Linked DNA regions of Homo sapiens. The protein of the gene in region 2 interacts with the protein of the main gene of each other region in a biochemical or structural test. Each region holds a gene or a part of one and is shown on either strand. Other genes may lie near its edges.

Evidence for each region. Proteins that work in one complex are often made in the same cells at the same time.
Region 1: of the proteins of DMD (region 2) and TRIM63, one has a biochemical effect on the other in vitro, tested with the Homo sapiens proteins (one study listed by BioGRID).
Region 3: the proteins of DMD (region 2) and SNTB2 interact in a test that uses a peptide from one of them, tested with the Homo sapiens proteins (one study listed by BioGRID).

What each region holds. Positions count from the first base shown.
Region 1 is NC_000001.11:26,056,748-26,064,990, forward strand, and holds part of TRIM63 (E3 ubiquitin-protein ligase TRIM63), read right to left. Parts: intron 4,588-8,243; coding exon 4,419-4,587; intron 3,615-4,418; coding exon 3,519-3,614; intron 1,877-3,518; coding exon 1,643-1,876; intron 904-1,642; coding exon 881-903; intron 581-880; coding exon 456-580; intron 1-455. UniProt on the Homo sapiens protein: E3 ubiquitin ligase. Mediates the ubiquitination and subsequent proteasomal degradation of CKM, GMEB1 and HIBADH.
Region 2 is NC_000023.11:32,360,898-32,369,140, forward strand, and holds part of DMD (dystrophin), read right to left. Parts: intron 4,303-8,243; coding exon 4,123-4,302; intron 3,814-4,122; coding exon 3,685-3,813; intron 2,062-3,684; coding exon 1,891-2,061; intron 1-1,890. UniProt on the Homo sapiens protein: Anchors the extracellular matrix to the cytoskeleton via F-actin. Ligand for dystroglycan.
Region 3 is NC_000016.10:69,294,804-69,303,046, reverse strand, and holds part of SNTB2 (beta-2-syntrophin), read right to left. Parts: intron 3,458-8,243; coding exon 3,273-3,457; intron 2,216-3,272; coding exon 2,123-2,215; 3' UTR 1-2,122. UniProt on the Homo sapiens protein: Adapter protein that binds to and probably organizes the subcellular localization of a variety of membrane proteins. May link various receptors to the actin cytoskeleton and the dystrophin glycoprotein complex.

The DNA of each region.
Region 1 (8,243 bases), on a different chromosome or scaffold from region 2:
ACTATATGAATTTTTTTTTTTTTTTTTTTGAGATGGAGTTTGGCTGGCTCTTTTGCCCAGGCTGGAGTGCAGTGGCACAATCTCGGCTCACTGCAACCTCTACCTCCTGGATTCAAGTGATTCTCCTGCCTCAGCTTCCCAAGTAGCTGGAATTACAGGCACATGCCATCACGCCTGGCTAATTTTTGTATTTTTAGTAGAGATGAGGTTTCACCACGTTGGTCAGGCTGGTCTCAAACTCCTGACCTCAAGTGATCCGCCCACCTTGGCCTCCCAAAGTGCTGGGATTACAGGCATGAGCCACCACAGCCGGCCAGAAGTTGGCTATATGAGTTTGATTGATATTTGGGGATCTTTATTAGTGTATCTGCCTCCCCATCGGGCTCAGTTGGAGGGATGCTGGTTTCCAGGGGTCAGGCAGGCAAATAGACAAGTGGCATCACCACCTCCTTTACCTGTCCCAAAGTCAATGGCTCTCAGGGCGTCTGCTATGTGCTCTAAATCCAAAGTAAAGAAGTCCATGTTCTCAAAGCCCTGCTCTGTCTTCCCCAGCTGGCAGCCCTTGGAAGCTTCCACAATGCTGCAGGGGAGACAGAAAGAGAGGCAGGATGAGGTCTCTGGGGCTCAGTGCAGGGAAGAGAGGGCACATGCTTTGCCACGCCCAGGCCTTCTACCCAGAGGCTCCCCTGGAGGGATGGAGTATTTCCTCTCCAACCTCAAGCACAAGGAGTGGTCCAAAAAGTCAGGGATGCAAAGGGTCAGGGAAGCCAGCCTAGAGTGAGACCCTCCCAGCAGGCCTAATGCCCAGGATGAGGCTTCCTGGACAGAGGTCCTGGTGGGAACTAGGTGCTTGGATCATAGCCTCTAGGAAGACACTGACCTTTTGATGAGTTGCTTGGCAGTCTGCAGGGGGAGAGAGAACAAAGGATTAGGACCGCAGAAGAGGTAACCGCAGGAAATCAGCAAAACTAGTGAACTAGGTGTTGTAGGTAGATATTTGGTGCCATTCCCTAGCCCAGTTGTGACCTGCTCCCCACCCCAAACTGAGCAGAATCTGGAACTTTTCCCTCTGTCTGTGGTCTGTACAGGTCTTGGTCATCACCCTAGGACCCACTGTCTTGACAGGAAGCTTGGATTCTAGGGGTATCAATCCCAAAACTCCTAAACCCTGAACTCCCCAATCCTAACCACCTTTTCATACCTAATGTCTAGCAAAAAGCCTGGCCCACAGTAGAAGCCTAGAACATTTTTATTGAACTGAACTATGAAGTCTTATAACTGAGCCTTTTCTGTCCTCCCCAACAAGCTCTTTGAGGGCAGGGCTGTGTCTGGTTTATCTCCTTGTCTTCCACCTCAGTGCCTGGCCTACAGTAGGGGCTCAATTAATAGTCTGTAGATGGGACACTGTATTTTGCAGCTTACAAAGTCATTTCATAAACATCCTCTTATCTTATCATCATAAAATCAGTAAGAGGAAGGTGGGGGGTGTTACATGCCCATTTGACAGATGAGGAAACTGAGGCTCACAGAGGTTTAAATGGCTTTTCCAAGGGCCCATGGGTGGTCAGTGGGGAAGCATAACTTGAACCTTAGAGCTGTAGAGTTGAACTGACCCCACCCAGACCCTTCTAGTCCTGCTCACCAAGAGGAAGGTGGCTCCCCCAGGCTCGTCCAGGGACTGGATGGCAGTTTCCACCAGCTTTGTGGACTTGTCCAGCTGCTCCTGGTACTGCTGGATGAGGGCCTCGATGAAGCTAAGCTTTTTCTCCTGCTCCTGCGTGATCCGCTGCAGCAACTCACTTTTCTTCTCATCCAGGATGGCATACAACGTGTCAAACTTCTGGCTCAGCTCTTCCTTTACCTGGTGACTGTTCTCCTGAGGACGGAAGTCTTGTGGTCACGTTCTGTAGGGTCTTTATTCCCTGCCCACTACACTGCCTTCCTAGGACAGTAGCAAGGAATCTAAAGCTAGAAGAGATCTCACTACATACATCCCCACACTACAGAAGAAGAAACAAAGACTTAACAAGAAGAAAACACTCATCTGGCCTCACAGCTATTTAGTACGCCAGTGATATTTGGAGGATGATGCCTTGAAAAACAGCTAGCCCCTTCTTCCAAAATAGAGGCTCTAGGGTCACATGACACAACATGTTCTTCCTTGTTCCTGCACCCTCCCCCTGTCCCCCAACCTCAGCTGGTCATTGGAGCATCACCTCTTAGACCAATGCAACAGTCACCCAATGTGGGATCTGCCCTGTCTTTCTCTGTTGCCCTTTTTTTTTTTTTTTTTTTGAGATGGAGTCTCGCTCTGTTGCCCCCGCTGGAGTGCAGTGGTGCGATCTTGGCTCACTGCAACCTCCACCTCCCAGGTTCAAGCGATTCTCCTGCCTCAGCCTCCCGAGTAGCTGGGATTATAGATACGCTACCACGCCTGGCTATTTTTTTGTATTTTTAGTAGAGATGGGGTTTCACCATGTTGGCCAGGATGGTCTCGATCTCCTGACCTCATGATCCACCCAGCTTGACCTCCCAAAGTGCTGGGATTATAGGCATGAGCCACTGTGCCCAGCTCTCTGTTGCCTTTTAGCTGTGTTTCCCTTTTAGCTGTGTGACCTTCAACAAATTAACGTTTCCTGGGCCTCCCATATGTCCCAGTTCACACTCTTCCCTCCCTTTCAGGACCAAGACTGGATTCGGGAAGCTCTGCATCATTTGGTCCTAGGAGAGGTGGAAAAACAGCTCCTTTCCTAGCACCCTCCTCAACCGAAGCTCCCTTCTCTCTATGTTCTTTTCTATAAAATGGGTGTGACAATAGCATCTCATCAGACCGGGAGCCTCTCGTGGGTGATCACAATGTTCCCCTCCTTCCTACCCTTCGCCCAACTCTTCATCCACTAGCAATTATGATGACCCCTTCCCCTCATCTCATCTCCAGATCCCTACCCCAAGTGAACATGGAAAATCGTGGAAGCTTTTTTCAGGGATAGAAAAGTTCCCTTCTGCCCTCAACAGTCTCACTACTCAACATGTGGTCTGTGGACCCAGCAGCTTGGGCAAATCCTGGGAACTGGCTAGAAATGCAGCTCTTATGCCTCATTCCAAACCAACTGAATCAAAACCTGAATTTCAACATGATCCCAGCGTAATTTTCACGCACTTCAAAGTTTGGGAAGTGTTGGTCTACAGCACACTGAAGAACTGTGCTCTGAAAACAATTTGTGCTGAATAAATACTGAGAATTATTGATGGGACACTCCCTGAGCTCAGGGACCACGTCTGTCTGGTTCACTCCTCCATCCCCCACATCTTGGGTGGGGCCGGACACACAGCTGTGCTTAAGAAGCATTTGTTGAGAGACTGGATGAATGGATTAGTCCCTCCCCTGCCATCCCTGCTTGACCGCCCCAGGCTCCGGGCCCCAACCTTTAGCCACAACCTATGGGTGAGCCTTCCCCAGAGACCAGGCTGCCCTGGAAAGCTCCAAATCCCCAGGCAGGACTATTCTGTCCGCTCACCTTGGTCACTCGACGGGAATCCTCCAGCTGAGTGATGATGGTCTGCACACGGTCATTCCCCGCCACCAGCATGGAGATACAGTTATTCAGTTCAGTCTAGATGGGGGTGTGGGGGTCAGGAGAGGAGAGACACAAATAGCCTCAGGGCCTACCCACTGGGGCATGGCAGCAACATGGCTTCCTCCCTCCCCTCTCTGCTAGAAAGAGCCTCCAGTAGGGATCTGGCCCCTCTTTCGGGTATAGCTCAGCTCCAGAGTAGAGGATATTAGAAAGATACTGCATCCCTTATTTTACAGGTGAGGCCAACAGCAGGCAAGTGAGCTGCCCAAAACACACAGCAAGGAACTGACAGAGGAGGGGCTTGTTTCTAAGAAAGAAGGGACAAAAAAAGAAATAGAGTTGGAGACGTCTAGAAGAGAGAGACCTAGAGAAGAGTGGGGAGTAGGGAAGAGAGAGTATGGAAAGGGGGTGGCTACGGCTTACTGCACGGACAGGGTGGTGGGCCCTCACAGGCCCAGGGACCCAGGGAGAAGGCTCTAAGCTGCCTCCTGCTGTGGGGGAATGTGAAGTCTTGGAGAAGAGGTGAGAGGCACAGGAAGAGGTGTCTGGGGGATGGAGAAGCCGTGGCCTGAGAGGACCCCAGTGGCCTGGCTGGGGCGTCTGACCGCTCCCCTGTGGCCACACCCAGGTGCTCTCGAGTGGCTCTAAGTATAACCATGAGCTCAGCTGCCTCCCCTAGGAAGGCCAGGGCTGCTGTCCCTGTGGCCTGGGAAGTCCCTCCAGAGAGACTATTCCTGAAAGGCCAGATCAGCAGATCTACAGGGATCAAATCTGCCTCCTGAATCATCAGGCCGTGCCCAGCAGGCCCAGGCTGGGGGTAAAAGTGGCTGGAGACAGTACCTTTTGTCCCTGGAAGACACTCTGCAATGGGGCCACCTCGCAGGCCTTGTGGATCCCAAACACCTTGCACATGGAGCAGGTGGGCACCTCACACGTGAGACAGTAGATGTTGATTTTCTCATCTTCGTGCTCCTTGCACATGGGGTGACTGCCCTTCTGCAGCGGCCGACTGCAGTGGAGAACAGTCACAAGTCATGGGGGTCCTGTGTCCCTGCATCCCCCTCCCCAGCTCCAATGCACCAGTCGCAGCTACTGGGGAGGCTGAGGCAGGAGGATTGCTCAGCCCAGGAATTCGAGGCTGCAGTGTGTCTGTGAATCTCCAGATTTATGCCCTGGGCCCTCAGTGTTTGGCTGCCCTAAAATCTTTCATCTTCTGGGGACCAAGGACTTGGGAAGCCAATGACACCAAATCTGTCCCCACATCCTAAGAGGGAGTTAGCCTGAGGCTCTGCCAGTGCCAAGGACACAGAAAGGGCCATAGAATTCCAGAGTCAGACCTGGAGATGTTTTAGAGAAGAGGAAACTGGGCTCCAGAAAAGTGAATTGACTCGTCCAAGGTCATACAGCAAGTAAGGGCAGAGGAGCCTAGAGTTCAGTTGCTCTAATTATAGTCACCTTAGCTTTGGTTACTGCAGGCTGGGCTCTGAGCTGAGAAATTTATACTGATGGCCTCATTTAATTCTATATTTAATCTACCAGACTGTAACCTCCATCAAGGTAGGGAAACTTGCCTGTTTTCTTCACCCCTGTGCCTACACTGTACAGTGCCTGGCATAGAGGAGGTGGTAATTAAACAAAGGTAGAAAGAATAAATCAATAAGGCTGGGCGCAGTGGCTCACGCCTGTAATCCCAGCACTTTGGGAGGCCGAGGTGGGAGAGTCACCTGAGGTCAGGAGTTCAAGACCAGCTTGACCAATATGATGAAACCCCGTCTCTACTAAAAACTCAAAAAAATTAACCAGGCATGGTGGCATGCACCTGTAATCCCAGCTACTCGGGAGGCTGAGGCAGGAGAATCACTTGAAACCAGGAGGCAGAGGTTGCGGTGAGCCGAGATCGCACCATTGCACTCCAGCCTGGGCAACAAGAGCAAAACTCCGTCTCAAAAAAAAAAAAAAAGAAAGAAAGAAAGAAAGAATAAATTAATAACTAGCATAGGAATCAATAATATTCACCATCTTGAATTTATTAACATTCTCCATAAGAAAACAATTTTTTTAAAAAAGAATATTCACCACAGAGTCAGTCATACCCTCTCTCTTTCTCTTAGCTTCACCACTTTCTAGCTGTATGGCCTTGGATAAACCTCTGACCCTCTCTGAGCCATGAGGTTGCCCCTGAGGCTCAGAGAAGGAGCAGTGTGTATGCCCCATGTCATGGTGACTGGTGAGTGGGTAGCCCAGGGCTGTCCAACAGCCCAGCACAAGCCTGACTTCTAGTCCAGAGATTCTTTCAAAGGCCCAAGTCTCTTCCTCTACTTTCTCCCCTAACACATATGCTTAGAACTACCTTTCTTCCTTGAGACCTCCAACCTGTTATTTGTGCTTCTCTTGGGACATCAGTCATTTCCTAACCTAGATTCATTGGGGCCTGGGGGGGATTTTTTTGTTGTTGTGTTGTTCTGTTTTGATTTTTTGCCCAGGCTGGAGTGCAGTGGTGTGATCTTAGCTCACTGCAAACTCCACCTCCTGAGTTTCTGATGCCTCAGCCTCCTGAGTAGCTGAGATTACAGACGTGCACCACCATGCCCAGCTAATTTTTGTATTTTTTAGTAGAGATGGGGTTTCACCATGTTGGGCAGGCTGGTCTCAAACTCCTGGCCTCATGTGATCCACCCACCTCAGCCTCCCAAAGTGCTGGGATTACAGGCGTGATCCACAGCACCCAGCCTTTGTTTGTTTGTTTGTTTGTTTGTTTGTTTTGAGACAGGGTCTCACCATATTGTCCAGGCTGGAGTGCAGCAGCGATTCACAGATACACTGCAGCCTCGAACTCCTGGGCTGAGCAATCCTCCTACCTCAGTCTCCCCAGTAGCTGCAACTGGTGCATACCACCATGCCTGGTGTAGATTCGATTTTTTGAGTCTTCTGTCTCCGGCTAGACTATACACTCATTGAAAGCCAACACTACCTTCGATTCCCAGCCCCAAACAGAACAGGCATCTTGCAAATGTCAAATGGTGACTGTTCCCATCAGTGTCAATGCCTCACCTCCAAACAGCCTTACATGACTGATCACACCCTGGGCTCTATTGTCCTCTGAAGTTCTTAAATATGCCCCTTTCCAGGCTTGTCTTTTTGCATAGTTTACCCCAGGGTCCCTATGCTGGCAGGGGTCTGCCATTGCCACCTGCCTCCATCCCCTGATAAAGGGATGGCAGGGAGTGCAGAGGTGAGGCAAGAGCCTGAGGGTCTGGTTCATGCGCCCGCAGCCCTCCCAGATGCCCACCCTCCCAAGCTCAGACTTTGGCATCGGGGTTCATATCCAGATTGTTCTCTTACATTCATTTTTGTGATTTTGGACTAGTGATTTCACCTCTCTTGCCTGTGGGATTCCTCCCAGAACTACTGCAATCTGTCTGTAGAAATTGTCTATAATGAATGTAGAGTGCCCGGCACAGAGCAGACCCTCAATAGAGGGCAGCTGTCATTGTCATTCAACTATGCGGAAAGGCCTCAAAGGTTCACATATAACATGCTCTTCATAGGTCGGCACTGGGTAGGCTAACATTGGTGTGGAATTGATTTTATTATTCCTTATGATCAACAATATGTTTGCATTTTGTAGTGTTGTGCTCTAGCAACATGAGAGGCAATCTAGCTCAGCAATTAAGAATATTCACCGGCCGGCCAGGCGCGGTGGCCCACGCCTGTAATGCCAGAACTTTGGGAGGCCAAGGCGGGCGCATTACCTGAGGTCAGAAGTTCAAGACCAGCCCGGCCAACGTGGTGAAACCCTGTCTCTACAAAAAATACAAAAATTAGCTGGGTGTGGTGGTGCACGTCTGTAATCCCAGCACTTTGGGAGGCTGAGGCGGGCAGATCACCTGAGGTCAGGAGTTTGAGACCAGCCTGGCCAACATGGTGAAACCCTGTCTCTACTAAAAATATAATAATTAGCTGGGCACGTTGGCACGCATCTGTAGTCCCTGCTACTCGGGAAGCTGAGGCTGGGGAATCACTTGAACCGAGGAGGTGGAGGTTGCAGTGAGCCAAGATCGTACCACTGCCCTCTAGCCTGGGCAACAGACCAAGACTCTGCCTCAAAAAAAAAAATTAAAAAAATAAAAAATATTCTCACACCCTCTCTCTCTTAGCTCTACCACTTGCTAGCTGTGTGGGCTTGGACAAATCTCTGATCCTCTCTGAGCTTCCATTTCCTCATGGTAAAATGGAGACAGGAATGCCTTCCCGGGTTACTATGAGAAGCAGATAGGAAAAATGCCTGAAAGTACTTAGAACAGCGCCTGCACACAATAGGTACCCAATAAATGGTTGATACATTAACCATTTTCCATTAATATCTTATTTGACAGCCACAATAACAGATCTTACTGTTTCTGTTTGCAGACAGAGGAAATGAAGCTCTAAAGGCTTACCCAGCATGGTACAGTACATTAGTCACAGAGGCTGACTAGCAAGCACAGTTCCCCGGGTCAGGGTTTTTTCACCTGAGATCTGGTCTGTCACCTTCCCCTGGGCTGGGCACTGCCTGCAGGCAGATGCCTTGGTGAAGGCTTTGGACCTTAAAGGCTGTGAGGTCAGCACTCCTGGAGTCTTACCAGGATGTCCTGATTTGTAAAGATCTTTCCTGGAGCTGTGTCT
Region 2 (8,243 bases):
ATCACTTTATGCATGATTTCCAGAAGTATACTTACAAATTCATGCAGAATGTGAAATGAAAACTCACAAACTTGTCTTGGTCACAAACTTGTATTGGCTGGGTCTGTCACATCTGTGGTGGAGAGCAAATTCTACCCATTTTTTAATATCTGTGAACCACAATCTTGTAACACAATTTATCCAAAGATAATACCTTATTTTCTCTTAAATATTCTATAGCTTAGTGATTTATTAAAATGTGCATGTGTGTGTGTCTATATCTTAGTAATGAAGTAGTAGCATTTTTTAAGGATTGAAATAAATCTCCATTCATTGTCTTGTTATTACATAAGCCATTGATATCTTTAGAAGTAAAAACAATTGTCTTTGTAAGTAACAATACATTCTTTCAAAACTTTAATCAATTTTAAGAGCCTGTCACATTTTTTTGCAGGTAATAATGACTGACTCAAATATATATATTTGTGACAGTTAACTACTAAGTTCTCTCATGCTGTCTCTCTCCATATGTAGAGAATATAGCCTTTTAAAAGTCAACTATATAAGGTCTCTATGTATGGAGAGAGAGAGTACAAGAGAACTAAGTAGTTAACTATTAAAAATAACTTGCAATGAATTAAGGTAAACTAACAACTTTTTAATTTGGGAAGGTGAATTTTGAAGGGTAACTGTGTCTCATGCATACAAGCTAAACTATTTAGAATTTATCATGTCACATTTCACTTATTTTGAAAACTACTTTAAATATGTACTATTATATAACATGATGAGACACTGTAATGCCTTAGAAAGTGCAGCAATTGTGAAACCATGCTATTACTGGTTGCTTATATCTATCAAAATATTTTTTGAAAATGTTCTATTTTTCCAGGAATCAATACTTACCTGACATACTGCATCATATTTTCTCATAAATACTCCAATGTTTTTTTCATTTCAGATTATTTCTAACAATTATCTATATACCTAAATACATATATTGATTTTATATACATTTTTATGTTTGAAAGCATATCATATATATTGAAATTTATCAAACTACAGTATATAAATTTCTAGGTAATTACTTGCATTTCAAATCTTCCCAAAGAGCTGAAATTCTATAACACTATATTTATACATTTTTGCAAACTACTTATTAAATAAGACTTTCTCTTCATCAAATCATACACAAATATAAAGTCTATCACGCAAAAGTTCCATATTCCCTGGTTCTTCTTAAACAGTAATATAAATAGGCATATAAAATTACAAAAATTAGGATATGTAAGCTTTGCAATGATTTGTTTTCATGGCGTGATCATTTCATTATAGCCTAATGAATTTTGTCACAGTGTCTACAACTAGCAAAAGCAAGTTAAACAAACACACTTGCACAACCAGTAAAGAGGTAAAAAAACACCCTAGACCGTGCAGAAGATGTACAAGACCTCATTTTGGATATTTGATCCACATTACATACAAGCAATATTGTATCAGTACTGCTTTTGGCAAAATTTATCGGTAGTGCTTTATGTTGATGGATGACTTGTGTGCTTTTGGTTTTATTTATTTTTTTGGCCTTCAGCATGCTATTTGTTATTTTTTTCTGTAGGTGACCCCTGAAAGTACGTATGTAAACTGCAGCATAGAATGCAGTCCTAGAATATCTATGGCAGCAAAAGATGAGAGAGAAAAAGAGACAGAGAGAGACAGAGAGAGACAGAGACGGGGAGGAGTGGCGTTTATCTCCCATTATAATCAGTGGTAAAATTTCCTTAAATACATTTTGGCATTCATTTTCCTTTTGAAAACCTTGCTGTGGGGTCTACTTGCCCCTTTCAGAGTACTGCGCAACCTTCGCAAGAGACCATTTAGCACAAGTTTCCACCTTGGAGTAGATCTTCCTACCTTTCCAGTCTTAATTCTGTGTGAAATGGCTGCAAATCGATGGTTGAGCTCTGAGATTTGGGGCTCTACTAATTTCCTGCAGTGGTCACCGCGGTTTGCCATCAAGTTTGCTGCTTGGTCACGTGTAGAGTCCACCTTTGGGCGTATGTCATTCAGTTCTGCCTTTAAACGCTATATTCCATGAGCAAGAGATAGGACTTGAAGTTAGTAATTAATGAAGGTCAAGATAGAAAAAGAGAGCCAAACAGAGCGAGTGAGCAAGTGAGCGAGAAGAGTGAGAAAGAGAGAGAGAGAAAGTAAGAAAATGAGAGCAAGCACATGCAGAAAATACAAAGGGAGATAAAACCACAACTTCCATAAAACAGGACTAAAATGAAAATGCGTGTGATTTCAGAAAAATAGATCACCGTCCTTAAGTTTGATGCATGTCTATTTAAAATGTTTATTTAGTCCGAGGAAGGACAGGGATGTTTTCCCAACTATGTTGTTGCAACTATCATAATATATTCTATTTAGTCTTATTTTATTATATCGTTACTGAATTTAATAGTTGTGGAATGAACTAAGTATGTGCTCAGGAGGTCAGGTAGCTGAAGAACACTTTTCTATTCCTTCCTAGCACTTTCAAGTTCCTCTTTATTACATTGAGTGTCATAAGAAAAAAAGTGATTTTCTAACACATACGAATTTTCTGTCACATACAGAGGTACTGAGGAATGTTCTTCCTGACCTGCCGGGTCACAGAGGTTGAAGTTAAATAACTCAGACCCTATTATTCAAAAAGCCTTGAAGGAAATTCACCATAAGATGACATCTCTGACTATACATCAAGGGATAATGAAGAGCACAATACAGATCCACATCAAAATAAGCTTCAGACAATGGCATAAATGTGTTTTGGGGATAGCCTGGAATGAATTTATAGTTTTTCATTAAAGGTATATCGTAATCTGTGGAAAATATCAGAGGCATAAAAATAAATTGCATAGAAAGAAACATAATTTTTGAGTTTTCTTTAAATAGTAAACAACTAATCAATAAATTTATCAAACATTGCAGCAAAACAAAATAAAAAATGTTTATTGAAAAGAGAGCTGTTAAAATTCAACTCTACCTATTTAATTGGGAAAAGAGACATCATCAAATAGAAACAATGTAGTGTCTATAAGGTATATTTGCGTATTACACCTCTCATACCCTTTTATCGGAATCATTTTTTAAAGAAAAGATTAAGTTCCCCTTGAAAAAGAAGACAGGGCATCCTAACAGTCAGTTTTGAGACTAAAAGAAAGAACCCAAAGCCTAGTTTACATGTAGTTAAAAATGAAAACCTCAGCTTTACATAAGCCCAACATTAAGACTAATTACCAAGATTTGGATATGGCATAGGCAAAAAAATCAGCTGACTGGATTTCAGGTGTTCATTCAGATGGGCTAAATGAATGATAGTGTCAGATTGTTCTTTGTGTTAGACACAAGAATGTAGTACCACCATTGACAAAGGCAGAAATTTGCAATATGATTTCAAAATAAATCTTGGAATATCTTTCTGAACGGAGTTTACATTGGGTATAATTAACTGAGTGATGGATTTGAACAGAAAGTCAGATTACAGAACTCTTCAAAATCATTCATTTCCATTCAAAGGGGGAAGGAAGGAAAAAGGGAAAGATAAAGGAAGGAAGAAAGGATTGTTTTACTCTTATTAAGACGTCCTTAGTATCTTTTAGGACAAAGATGATTGAAGTAACTGGTGTACAATTTGGACATTACTTTTCATATTTTATTTGCTACCTTAAGCACGTCTTCTTTTTGCTGGGGTTTCTTTTTCTCTGATTCATCCAAAAGTGTGTCAGCCTGAATGATCCACTTTGTGATGTGGTCCACATTCTGGTCAAAAGTTTCCATGTGTTTCTGGTATTCCTTAATTGTACAGAGACATACCATGGCATTATTGGTTAGACAATATTCTTAAAGAATTTTTCCTATGTTCTAAAATGTTTAAAAGACAACAATAAAGTTTCATTGAGATTAGTTTTAAGTGGTATTTTCATATAGAATATTGCGTAAATATAAAGAAAAATATATTAAAATATTGTTATAGATATTGAATTAAGAGCCAGCATATACGTAGAATTGAGAAATTTTCAAACACAGAATTGTTACTGGTCACTTATGTATCTTTTTCTCGTGACAGAGAAGGGTGTAAAAGCTTCTAGCCTTTTCTCTTACCAACAAAAGATTTAACCACTCTTCTGCTCGGGAGGTGACAGCTATCCAGTTACTATTCAGAAGACTGAGTTTATCTTCCACCAACGTCTCCTTCTTGCCCAAAACTGTTTTCAAGGCCTCTCCTACCTCTGTGATACTCTTCAGGTGCACCTTCTGTTTCTCAATCTCTTTTTGAGTAGCCTGTGAAAAGGAGAGCATTGACCTTCAAGTAATGTCTTGTAGTCTTAAGATTTAATGCTTATGAAACGGCTTTCTGTATGGTTACTATGATTCTGCAAGGTTTTAAACCTATAACTATGTATTAATGAATCATGAAAACCATACCATATATACTGAAGCTTCATTGTTGGGTAACTATGAACATATATATGTACATAAGCATAATTCATGTCTTATTTTTCATTATAAATATTTAATAAACATACATATTGTTCAACTAAATATATTTATATTTATTTAATTTATACATGTAGTGGCTAAAGGCAGATATTTGAAAATCCATCCACAAATAAGAAACTGCCCTTAGAAAATTCTACAGTATGGTGCTACTGTATTTCTGCAGCAGGGATTTTTTTAGCCTTTTAGTGCCATGGATCTTTTTGGCATCTGTTGAAGCTTAAAAACCCATTCTCATAATAATGCTTTTAAATGCATAAAACAAAATACATAGGATTTTAAATGAAAACAATTATACTGAAATACAATGTGCAACACATTTTTTAAATATTTGTGATGTAGTAATACATGTTTTATTTCCTAATATGTTAATTAACAAGATCTAGCATCAGGTCTTTAGGATAATTTCAATGTAGTGATGACGAGCATAACTGGTATTTTTAAGTATGTACAATGTCTGGAACACGTTATAAAAGTATCTGTCATTTCTATTAGTGACAAAGTCATGGGTATCTCTATTGCTGGAGTTTGTTGCTCACATTTTAACTGAAAAAACTGCTTACTTTTGGTTTTAATTGAATACAAATAAAGATAAAGTTTTCCCCCAATCCAAGTTCACAGACCTTATTTCTATCCACATACCCTAGACTAAAATCTCCTAAGAGAATACCACTATTTCCTAAGAGGTGATTTATAAAACATGAAAACAATCACATTTAACATGAAAAAAGATAGAGAGTAGTGATGGAAAAAGTGATCTTAGTACAAAGGTTTACTACCTGCCCTGCATAAAGCCCCTTTCCTGGTACATGGCACGGCTGACAGACAATGTGGCCACTCGGCATTCCACTGAGTCTGTGCCTGGTTCTTTCCCTGCCTGTCTAGTTAGCCAGCTGTGGGACATTCACAGAGAGCTGAGCCAGAGCCCAACAGACCCTTTTTCTCCTTTCTCAATAAGGTTAACAGATACAGAGACTGTGATTGGCACTCGAGTTGAAAAGCTATTTGCGAGTGGAGCTGATGTCTTAATCACAGAAAGCCAAAGCAAAACAAAATCATTGAGAAACAGCAATAACAGGAAAGTGGAGAAAGTCCAGATACAAATAATCAATTAATAAACACACAAGGAGCAGCTCTGTAATGCCAGCCTACATCTAATTTCTTAAGAAAAAAATTACAGTACAAGAGTAAGAAATTAGGTATAGGCTGGCCTCATAGAGTCACTCTCAACATGTCTTTTCTATCTTTATAATATACCTAAGTAGTCCTGTGGCTGTCTTTCTGCCACGCCATAAGGTCCTGGTCCACTCGAAATCACTTCTCATACTTTCTGTTTTGGTTTTGCCTTTGGCATCGGATAAACAGGAGAAATAAATGAGGAAACAATGTATAAAAATTTTTATGCAAGACAAAAACACTGTTTCTTCAATTCTAAGATATGGTTTTATGTCACATTTTTTCAATAAAAACATGCCTGAAATTAAGGTACTTAATGCCAGATGAACTCGACAGCTATCATGCATGGGGTTCTTCATATGTAGGTGCTATTTGTTGCACACAGGTGAGCTTAGCAATTCATAAAAGCAATTTCTTCATTTATCAATCGTAAGTGTTGCCTGAGCTCCTATTATATGCCAGTTACTACTGTAGCAGAATCATATGTAATTCTCCTCAATATATTCTGGGAGATTATTAGAAGTCTCTCATTTGGGTAGATACAGACCCTTTAGAGCTTAACTTCAGAGTAGACATAGACTAGATTTTATTCCTTTTAATACTTTGACTTCAACCTTTTGTAGTATACAACCTCTACAACCATAGATGTTAGCCATTGTTACTAGGCTCTGTGGGATAAAACGGTAGAGAAGTCCCCATCCTTCAAAAACTTATATCCAAGTATGAGTTTGTCAAAGAGATGGACATATACGCAAATGAGAATTATCTACTTTCTATATTCCAGTCTACTGGCATCTCGCTGTAGTTGATTTATTCACAAAGGTAACCCTTCACAAAGTTGAAGCTTAATTTATATTTGGATTACTAATTATCTCTTAATAAGTCTTCATAAAGATGACACTATATTTTAGCATCAATGTAAAAAGTTATTGTGTACATAGATTTTGTTTCTTACATGACAAGCAATGCAATTAAAGGCAATGGAATTTTCCAAAACTCAGAAGAGATCACAAAAGTTTTGAACTTAGGGGATAATGTTGCAGGTAGTTCCTGGGTCACAGAAACCATTATGTGTCAACATCTGGCCAAATTCCTCCAGCTAATTTAAACAATGTCCAGTGATGTTCAGTTGATGGGAACAAAATAGGAAATGTGGACTAATTTCTAGTGCCTTCTTAAGTTCCACAAAATTATAAATTAAAACTAAAAGATGTTCAATTTATCACCATTATCAACTTGTATTTGAAAAAAGCAGTGATATGATGGTGGTTTATAACTGCTAATGGTCAAAAGTGATTCACAGGACAATTTACACTCTGTAAAAAAAGAGACCTAGAGTTAAACTTTTATGTATGCTATTCAACAATAAGGAACCAGTATTCAATCATTTGTATACATGCTGTTTTGGGTTAGGAAAAAATATTGTGTTAATTTAGTAGGCCTTAAATTTTTCCCTCAAATGTGTTTTTAATCAAAGATATGACTTAAGAAATAAGACTTAAATAAGACTTAGCCTTTAAATACTATGCTGAGCTTGCTTTCTGGAGATCTGAAATACTAATTGACCAATGTATATCAGGTGCCTAATATCCAGTCTGTACTGTGCTATTCACTGCCAGAGATGAGGAATGAGGTAATCTTTGCAAACCTCACTCTAATCATGCCTACAGTGTAGCTGCAGAGGAAAGCTTAAATGCAATAAAACAATTTGATATCATACTAGAAAAAAATCACATTTTTTTTTGGAAACAGATGAGCCATGGCTGGAATAAGCATGAATGACTACAAGGGAAAGGTGACACTTGAAGGCGGAGTGTGCATGGGATGGTTTGGATTGACTAAAGACAAAGTACGAAGCAACGAGAAGGTATGAAAGTTAGAATACAAGGCTGCCATAGAGGAACAGGGAATTCTTACTGTAAACTAAAAGAATACATTTGATGAGGTTGTTGACGAACCATTTTCTCTGGCTCTAATAGTTTCCCACAACACAAGAATGTCTGCATCTTCAGATGTATGGAGAACCAACCTAGAGCTATTGCCTTGGCCATTGTCTTTATACCTGTACTCATTCCTCTCAAAGGGAGCTCCTTATTTATAGGGTTGGCGAGATGGAAAGAAACAGCTGAAAAGATATGGCATTTCCTCCTTTTCAAAAGCATCCGATTCTCAGCATACATGCCTTCTTCTGCCTTGTGAGGTGAGAAGTGGAGAGGGTTCTAGAAGATCTACTCTTCTGAAGGAGCAAGTTCAAATTCAATGACTAAATTCACTAAATTATAACTCAGACACTTTAGGTTTTTCAGTCATGTAGTAATGTGATTGCTGCTAGGATCGATTTTAGGGCTGAAGAAAAAGCAAGATTGTGTACACTCAGTTTTAACTTGACCTATGACATGATTGTAAGTCCACCTTCAGGAGATTCAAGAGAAGGTGAACGCAAACTATATACTTGGCACTAAGGGTTTTTATGATAGAGGGGAAAATATCTGACATAAGTAAAATCCAATTAAACTATAAATTCTCACAATGTCTAACATATTATTTTC
Region 3 (8,243 bases), on a different chromosome or scaffold from region 2:
AAAAATACAAAAATTAGCTGGGTGTGGTGGTGGGTAGCTATAACCCCAGCTACTCAGGAGAATCACTTGAACCTAGGAGGTGGAGGTTGCAGTGAGCCGAGATCATGCCACTGCACTCCAGCCTGGGAGACAGAACGAGACTCCGTCTCAAAAAAAAAAAGAAAAGAAAATTTATCTCAGATGGAGCCAATCTTAGGTTTATGAACTTTCAAAACATAAAAAGCTCTTGAAAGACATATTCTTGTCTAGATTTTAATTTCCAGTTTTAAGCAGTTCAGATAATTCATTTTTGGAACTTTGACAATTATATGAAGCTGGGGGAAGAACAGGCATCTCTCCCCAACCTCTGCATATTGTTGGTTTCACTGTAATGAGGAAGGAGGACTGACTTATGGGTGAAGGAGGACAATGGAGTTACAATGTTGACCTAGAACTCTCTCTGCTCATGGGTCCTCCCCATCGGTCAGGCCGCACTGAAACCAAATAGCTCATTTTGCACACAGGTGTGTTTTTCTCTTCTTTTCTCCCCCTGTGCCTGCCCCATCTGAAGTGACACCCTCCTCCACCCTCCACAGCGCTCACATTCTTCCGTGGCACTCTTGATCAATCAAGCAAACAAGAACTTTCCCTAGACCTTTCTTCAGAGAGCATAAAGAACATCCAAGTCAATATTACCTATTCTTTGAGATCCAGGGACTGTGCTAATTTTGACATTTTATATGATATTATACCATTTTAAATGTTTGCAGATATATACCACCTTCAAAATTAGGAAAAACAAGCTGAGTTCATTTTCTAACACTACAAAATCAGCATTCTTGCTGCTACTGTGTCCTAATGATATCTGGCAATCTTAACCAAAAGCAGGTAGCTGTTCCACGGTCTCATCACCCTGCTCACTGTAGGGTGTGCTGTGAAGCCAATAGTAAGTCTCGAATTAGCAGTTGCTTGTCCATGCCACTGCTGCCACAAAGGGCCAGGCCACAGCCAGGATGCTGCATCCTGTTGTTTTTGGGCAGCCCAAAACAATTCAACATGACGTTTGTGCGGAATTGCTGGCTTCACCCACCAAGTCTACTCCTCAAGCAGGCTGGCTCTTTAGGATTTATCTTGTTCAAACAGATCTGCCTACTAGAAGAGATGCCATTAAGGAAACCCACCTCAATGACTATTCCTCAAAACTAGGATAGGTGATCTCCTGGAAATGGCAGTGATTTCCAGTTATTCAAATAGTGACTAATAAAGCTCCACTAACCCTAACCAAAGGCACATTTGGTAAGCAATAAAAAAAATGGCTTAACCTAGGAAGAGGATTTTCATTTAAAATAAATCTTATCCCCTGGCTCCTAACAAAAATAAAATTGGAAAAACCTAAACCAAGCAAAACTTTTCTTTAAAAGCAGTGGCTTCCAACTTGCTTTTCAACTCAGTCACCACTAGAAAGGAAGTAGAAGGCAAGGCAAATCAAATTTACAAGTTCTAAGTCCTAGAGACAGTGGCAAAGCTTGGGATAAGGTGGGAAGTGATGGCCAGGCTGAGATAGAGGGAGATCCAGGGCAAATGGAACAACCCTTTGGTGATACAATTCAAGGACTTCCTATGGTGGAAGGAGCTAGTGAGGACAGTAAATTCCAAGACATACGACCTATCTGGAATGCTCAGGAAGCAACAGGCTGCTGCAAGCTAGCACCTGGGAAGGGACAATTGTTCTGAACAAGAGATCAAGGCTAAGCACAACACAAATCCTACAGGGAGAAGAAAAAGAAAACAATGCTTGGGTATTTGATTATGTCTAAAAATGAAAACAATGAAAAAAAAAGAAAACAATGAGCCATTCTTTTTAGCAGTAGAAATAAACCTAATTACTCATAAACCATATTTTGAAATGAGAATAAATCAACAGCTTCATTTTGGAGCCTTTTAGAGTGCTAGAATATCTGGCCAAGGTAGACTGTGAAAGGTAGGCTCTTCTTTAAACACGGTTATGGTTCAGCAGTTATTTGCAGGTCCTTGGGAAGGCACTGTGCTGAAGGAGAGCAAAGAGTTTCTTTTTGTGCTTTTTTTTTTTTGAGGTGGAAATATTTCTTGTGACAGTCAAGGCTCTTTTCTGATTTTTTGTTGCTCATACAAGCAGTCCCATACGAGTGACTTTGGCCGATAAAAACGTGTGCAACACAAATACAATCGGCTTCGGACAAGAGTGCAGGTCCATGGTCTGTGGAGAAAGGACACTAAGCATCACTACCTCACTACCATATACAGACAACTTAATAAACGAAGATGCAAAATAAATTTAAGGTAGGTAAAGAATGTGCCAGAGCTATGGAAACTCTTAGGAACTTAAAGCCACAGGCAAAAGTGCACTATGGAGTAAGGTTATTCCATGTCATAATACTGGTGTGAGGTTTCACATCCCCAATTAGGAGACAACTGGTGGTGTACTGGGTTTCACCATGCCTGGTAGGAAGAACTAAATAGTAGAGGATTTAAAATCTAAGGCCAGGCACGGTGGCTCACGCCCATAATCCCAGCACTTTGGGAGGCTGAGGCGGGCAGATCATGAGGTCAGGAGATTGGGACCATCCTGGCTAACACGGTGAAACCCCATCTCTACTAAAAATACGAAAAATTAGCCAGGCATGGTGGCACGTGCATGTAATCTCAGCTACTCGGGAGGCTGAGGCAGCAGAATTGCTTGAACCAGGGAGGCAGAGGTTGCAGTGAGCTGAGATGGTGCCACTGCACTCCAGCCTGGGCGACAAAGCGAGACTCCGTCTCAAAAAAGAAAAAAAAAAGAAAAATGACGGCAACAAAAACCAACACCCAATGCCATCTTGAAAACTGAAGAAGAGCAGATACAGTGGCTCACACCTGTAATCTCAACACCTTGGGAGGCCAAGATGGGAAGATCACTTGAAGCCAGGAGTTCAAGACCATCCTGGGCAGCAAAGCGAGACCTCATCTCTATAAAGAATATAAAAAATTGGCCAGGCATGGTGGCACACACCTATAGTCCAGTCCCAGTTACTCAGGAGGCTGAGGTGGGAGGATCACTTGAGCCCAGAAGGTATAGGCTGCAGGAAGCTATGATTGCACCACTACACTCCAGCCTGGGTGACAGAGACCCCATCTTTAAAAAAATTTTTTTTAATTTAAAATTTCATGGTTCTAAATGGAATGTCAGTCCATGACTTTGTATATAAGGGGTAAGAAGTAATGAGAAGGAAAGAGAACATCTATTAGATAAACATGTGTTTCAGAAACACTCTTACCAGTTCTCCCTCGGGACCACCAAAATCCAAGTATAGATTTCGGATGCCATCATCAGCAGACATCTTCAGCCTTTCAAAGGGGTAGCGGTACAATATGCTGCTGGAGCCTCCATTTTCCCTTGAGATGGTGAACCCATTTTCATAGTGAATAGTAAGCCTCACCTCTTGGCCATTTAACATGCAGCCTGTTGAAGAAAAGCAAAAAACATTAGTTGTAAAGTTGCTATGTCAGTTATCAAGTGAAAAGGGAATCTTCTGACTTCAAAATAGGAAAAATATTTTCTTGAGAATGTGTGATACCTAACCTGTATGGAAACTTCTAAAGTGTGTTTTGTGCTAGGCGTGGTGGCTCACGCCTGTAATCCCAGCACTTTGGGAGGCCGAGGCAGGCGGATCGCAAAGTCAGGGGTTTGAGACCAGCCTGACCAACATGGTGAAACCCCGTCTCTACTAAAAATATAAAAATTAGCTGGGTGTGGTGGCGGGTGCCTGTAATCCCAGCTACTCAGGAGGCTGAGGCAGGAGAATTGCTTGCACCCGGGAGGCGGACGTTGCAGTGAGCCAAGATTGCACCACTGCACTCCACCCTGGGCGACAGAGCAAGACTGTCTCAAAAAAAAAAAAAAAAGAAGTGTGTTTTGTTTTGGTCACTGAGATGAGGCAGAAATGACCATAACACTCCTTGACATCTGTTCGATTTAATTCCTCGAGTACCCACTGAACACTCATACTGGCAAGTGTGTGTAGGCTGTGCAAGGCACTAGAGAAGTAAGAGGCACAGTCCCTGCTCTCAAGGACTTTGTAAACTCATTGGCATAGACAGGAAATCCCCAATTGTGTAAGGCAGAATGTACAGAACATGAGCAAACACCAAAGTGAATGAGGCCAAAGTCAAGAAAAGGTTTCCTGGAGGAGATGGGCCTTCAGATAGGCCCTAAAGAATTGGTAATACTGGCCGGGTACGGTGGCTCACACCTGTAATCCCAGCACTTTGGGAGGTCGAGGTGGGCGGATCACTTGAGGTCAGGAGTTAGAGACTAGCCTGGCCAACATGGCGAAACCCCGTCTCTACTAAAAATACAAAAATTAGCCAGCCATGGTGGCACATGCCTGTAATCCCAGCTACTTGGGAGGCTGAGGCAGGATAACTGCTTGCACCTGGGAGGCAGAGGTTGCAGTGAGATGAAATCACGCCACTGCACTCCAGCCTGGGTGACAAGAGCGAGACACTGTCTCAAAAAAAAAAAAAAAAAAAAAAAAAAGAATTGGTAAAACTGGACAGGCAGGGAGGAAGAGGCAGAAGGACTGAACTGGGCAAGAAGGACCAACCAAAGGAGCAAAGGCAGAGAGGCCTTTCAGGAGCCGTGACATGGTTTGGTTGGCATTTGGGATGAAGATAAAGATTATGTTCATCAAAGTTAAAGGCTATACTCAGCAAAAGTCACAGTCAACGCTATCAAAGATACAATTCAAAGGACACCTCTGAATTGACAGGATACAAACAATTTTGGTCATCAAGACTGGCAAATGCCCCAGGTGTGGTGGGTCATGCTTACAATCCCAGCACTCTGGGAGGCTAAGGCAGGAGGCAGGAGGATCACTTGAGGCCAGGCGCTAGAGAACAGCCTGGGTAACATGGCAAGATCTCATTTCTATAAAAATAAAAAATGTATCTGGGCATGGTGGTGTGTGCCTATAGTCCCAGCTACTCAGGAGGCTGGGGTGGGAGGATCACTTGCGTCCAGGAGTTCAAGGCTGCAGTGAGCTATGATCATGCCACTGCACTCTAGCCTGGGTGACAGAGCAATGTCTAAACAATTTTAAAAAGAGAGATTTAGAGATTCTTTTTTTTGTTTGTTTTGAGATGGAATCTCCTTCTGTCACCCAGGCTGGGGTGCAGTGGCGTGATCTCGGTTCATTGCAACCTCACCCTCCTGGGCTCAAGCAATTCTTCTGCCTCAGCCTGCTGAGTAGCTGGGATTACAGATGTACACCACCACGCCCGGCTAATTTTTTTGCATTTTTAGTAGAGACAGGGTTTCACCACGTTGGCCAGGTTGGTCTTGAACTCCTGACTGCAAGGGATCCATCCACCTCGGCCTCCCAAAGTGTGGGGATTATAGGCGTGAGCCATTGCACATGGCTTCTTTTTTTTTTTGGAGACAGAGTCTCGCTCTGTCTCCCAGGCTGGTGCAGTGGCGTGATCTTGGCTCACTGCAACCTCTGCCTCCCAGGTTGAAGCAATTCTCCCGCCTCAACCTCCTGAGTAGCTGGGATTACAGGAGCGTGCCACCACACTAGGCCAATTTATGTATTTTTAGTAGAGACAGGGTTTCACCATGTTGGTCAGGCTGGTCTCAAACTCCTGACCTTGTGATCTGCCCGCCTTGGCCTCCCAAAGTGCTGGGATTATAGGCATGAGCCACCGTGCCCGGCCTCCTTTTTTTTTTTTTTTTTTTTTTTTTTTTGAGATAGAATCTTGCTGTGTCACCTAGACTGGAGTGCACTGGCGCAATCTCAGCTGACTGCAACCTCTGCCTCCCGGGTTCAAGCAATTCTCATGCCTTAGCCTCCTGAGTAGCTGGGATTACAGGCGGGCACCACCACACCCAGCTAATTTTTTGTATTTTTTAGTAGAGACGGGGTTTTGCCATCTTGCCCAGGCTGGTCTTGAACTCCTGAGCTCAGGCAACCCACTTGCCTCGGTCTCCCAAAGTGCTGGGATTACAGGTGTGAGGCACGGCACCTGGCCTGAGATTTTTTTTTTTTTTTGAGATAAGAGTCTCACTCTGTCATGCAGGCTGGAGGGCAATGGCGCAACCTCGGCTCCCTGCAACCTCCACCTCCCAAATGATTCTTATGCCTCAGCCTCCCGAGTAGCTGGGATTACAGGTGTTTACCACCACACTCAGGTAATTCTTGTAGTTTTAGTAGAGACAGGGATTTCACTATGTTGGCCAGGCTGGTCTCAAACTCCTGACCTCACGTGATCTGCCCACCTTGGGCTCCCAAAGTGCTTGGCCCCTGAGATTTCTTTTTTCTTTTTTTTTTTTTTGAGACAGAGTCTCTCTGTCGGCCAGGCTGCACTGCAGTGGCATGATCTCGGCTCACTGCAACCTCCGTCTCCTGGGCTCAAGCAATTCTCCTGCCTCAGCCTCCCGAGTAGCTGGGATTACAGGCATGTGCCACCAGGCCTGGCTGATTTTTTGTATTTTTAGTAGAGACAGGGTTTCACCATGTTGGCCAGGCTGGTCTCAAACTCCTGACCTCAGGTAATCCACCCGCCTCGGCCTCCCAAAGTACTGGGATTACAGGCATGAGCCACCGCGACCGGCCTGAGATTTCTTAAATGTTCTGTTTTGGATTGTTTCCCCTGGAGAAGGAAAGAATGGAAAGCAAATGTGACTGTGTGTGATTCTGTGTGTGTGTGTCAAACTTAATGTATTTAGGTCTAGATATTGAGCTTGTTTTAGTTTAAAAAAAATTTTTTTTTTGAGACGGAGTTTCACTCTTGTCACCCAGGCTGGAGTGTAATGGCGTGATCTTAGCTCACCACAACCTCTGCCTCCTGGGTTCAAGCAATTCTCCTGCCTCAGCCTCCCAAGTAGCTGGGATTAAGGCCTGCGCCACCACGCCTGGCTAATTTTTTGTATTTTTAGTAGAGATGGGGTTTCTCCATGTTGGTCAGGCTGGTCTCGAACTCCCGACCTCAGGTGATCCACCCGCCTCGGCCTCCTAAAATGCTGGGATTACAGGCATGAGCCACTACACCCGGCCATAGTTTAAAATGTATAATTAATACCAGATTCTTCTGAATGAGACTGTGACCTGGTCATGTAAATGCTGTGCCAAATCGAACCAATTAAACAGTTTTTCTCTAAACATTGAGTACATCACACCACAGTGATGCAATGATGATTAAGTGCCTGACACCCCTTACCCTTTTAGGAGTAATGAACCAAAGGGAGATAGGGGAAATAAGCCTTTCATTCTGATTTAACAGCTATGTGTGTGTGTATGAGAAGTGGCTTTTTTTTTTTTTTCAGTATAAATTCCCCATTTAGTAAGAGGAGTGGCCCTTTTCTGACGGGATAGCATCTGGGACTTATTAATGGAGCTGTTGCAGGTGGCTCATTATGTCTTGGTTCACTTAGAATGCTTTTGGATGGCTATGTGTCCACTATGCACTCCAATTTATAGATAAGTCAGTAAAAAATTCAGTATGTTGGCTGGGCGCGGTGGCTCACGCCTGTAATCCCAGCACTTTGGGAGGCCAAGGCGGGTGGATCACAAGGTCAGGAGTTCGACACCAGCCTGGCCAATATGGTGAAACCCTGTCTCTACTAAAAATACAAAAATTAGCCGGGAGTGGTGGCAGACGCCTGTAGTCCCAGCTACTCGGGAGGCTGAGGCAGGAGAATTCCTTGAACCTGGGAGGCAGAGGTTGTAGTGAGCAGAGATCAAGATCGGGCCACTGTACTCCAGCCTGGCAGACAGAGCAATACTTTGTCTCAAAAAAAAAAAAAAAAAAAAAAAAAAAAAAATTCAGTATGTTGATTTTGTTTAACAGGGTTGTTACCAGAAATAGAAAAAGACACACAATAGCAGCACAATAGTAAGTACTGAAGTTAAAGGGGTAAAAAACTACAGTTTTGGCTGGGCGCAGTGGCTCACACCTGTAATCCTAGTACTTTGGGAGGCCGAGGCAGGTGGATTGCCTGAGCTCAGGAGTTCGAGATCAGCCTGGGCAACATGGTGAAACCCCATCTCTACTAAAATACAAAAGAAATTAGCCAGGCATGGCAGTGTGTGCTTGTAATCCCAGCTACTCAGGAGGCTGAGGCCGGAGAATTGCTTGAACTTGGGAGGCAGAAGTTGCAGTGAGCTGAGATTGCACCACTGCACTCCAGCCCTCCAGCCCTCCAGCCCGAGTGACAGAGCGAAAAAAAAAAAAAATCAAAAACTACAGTT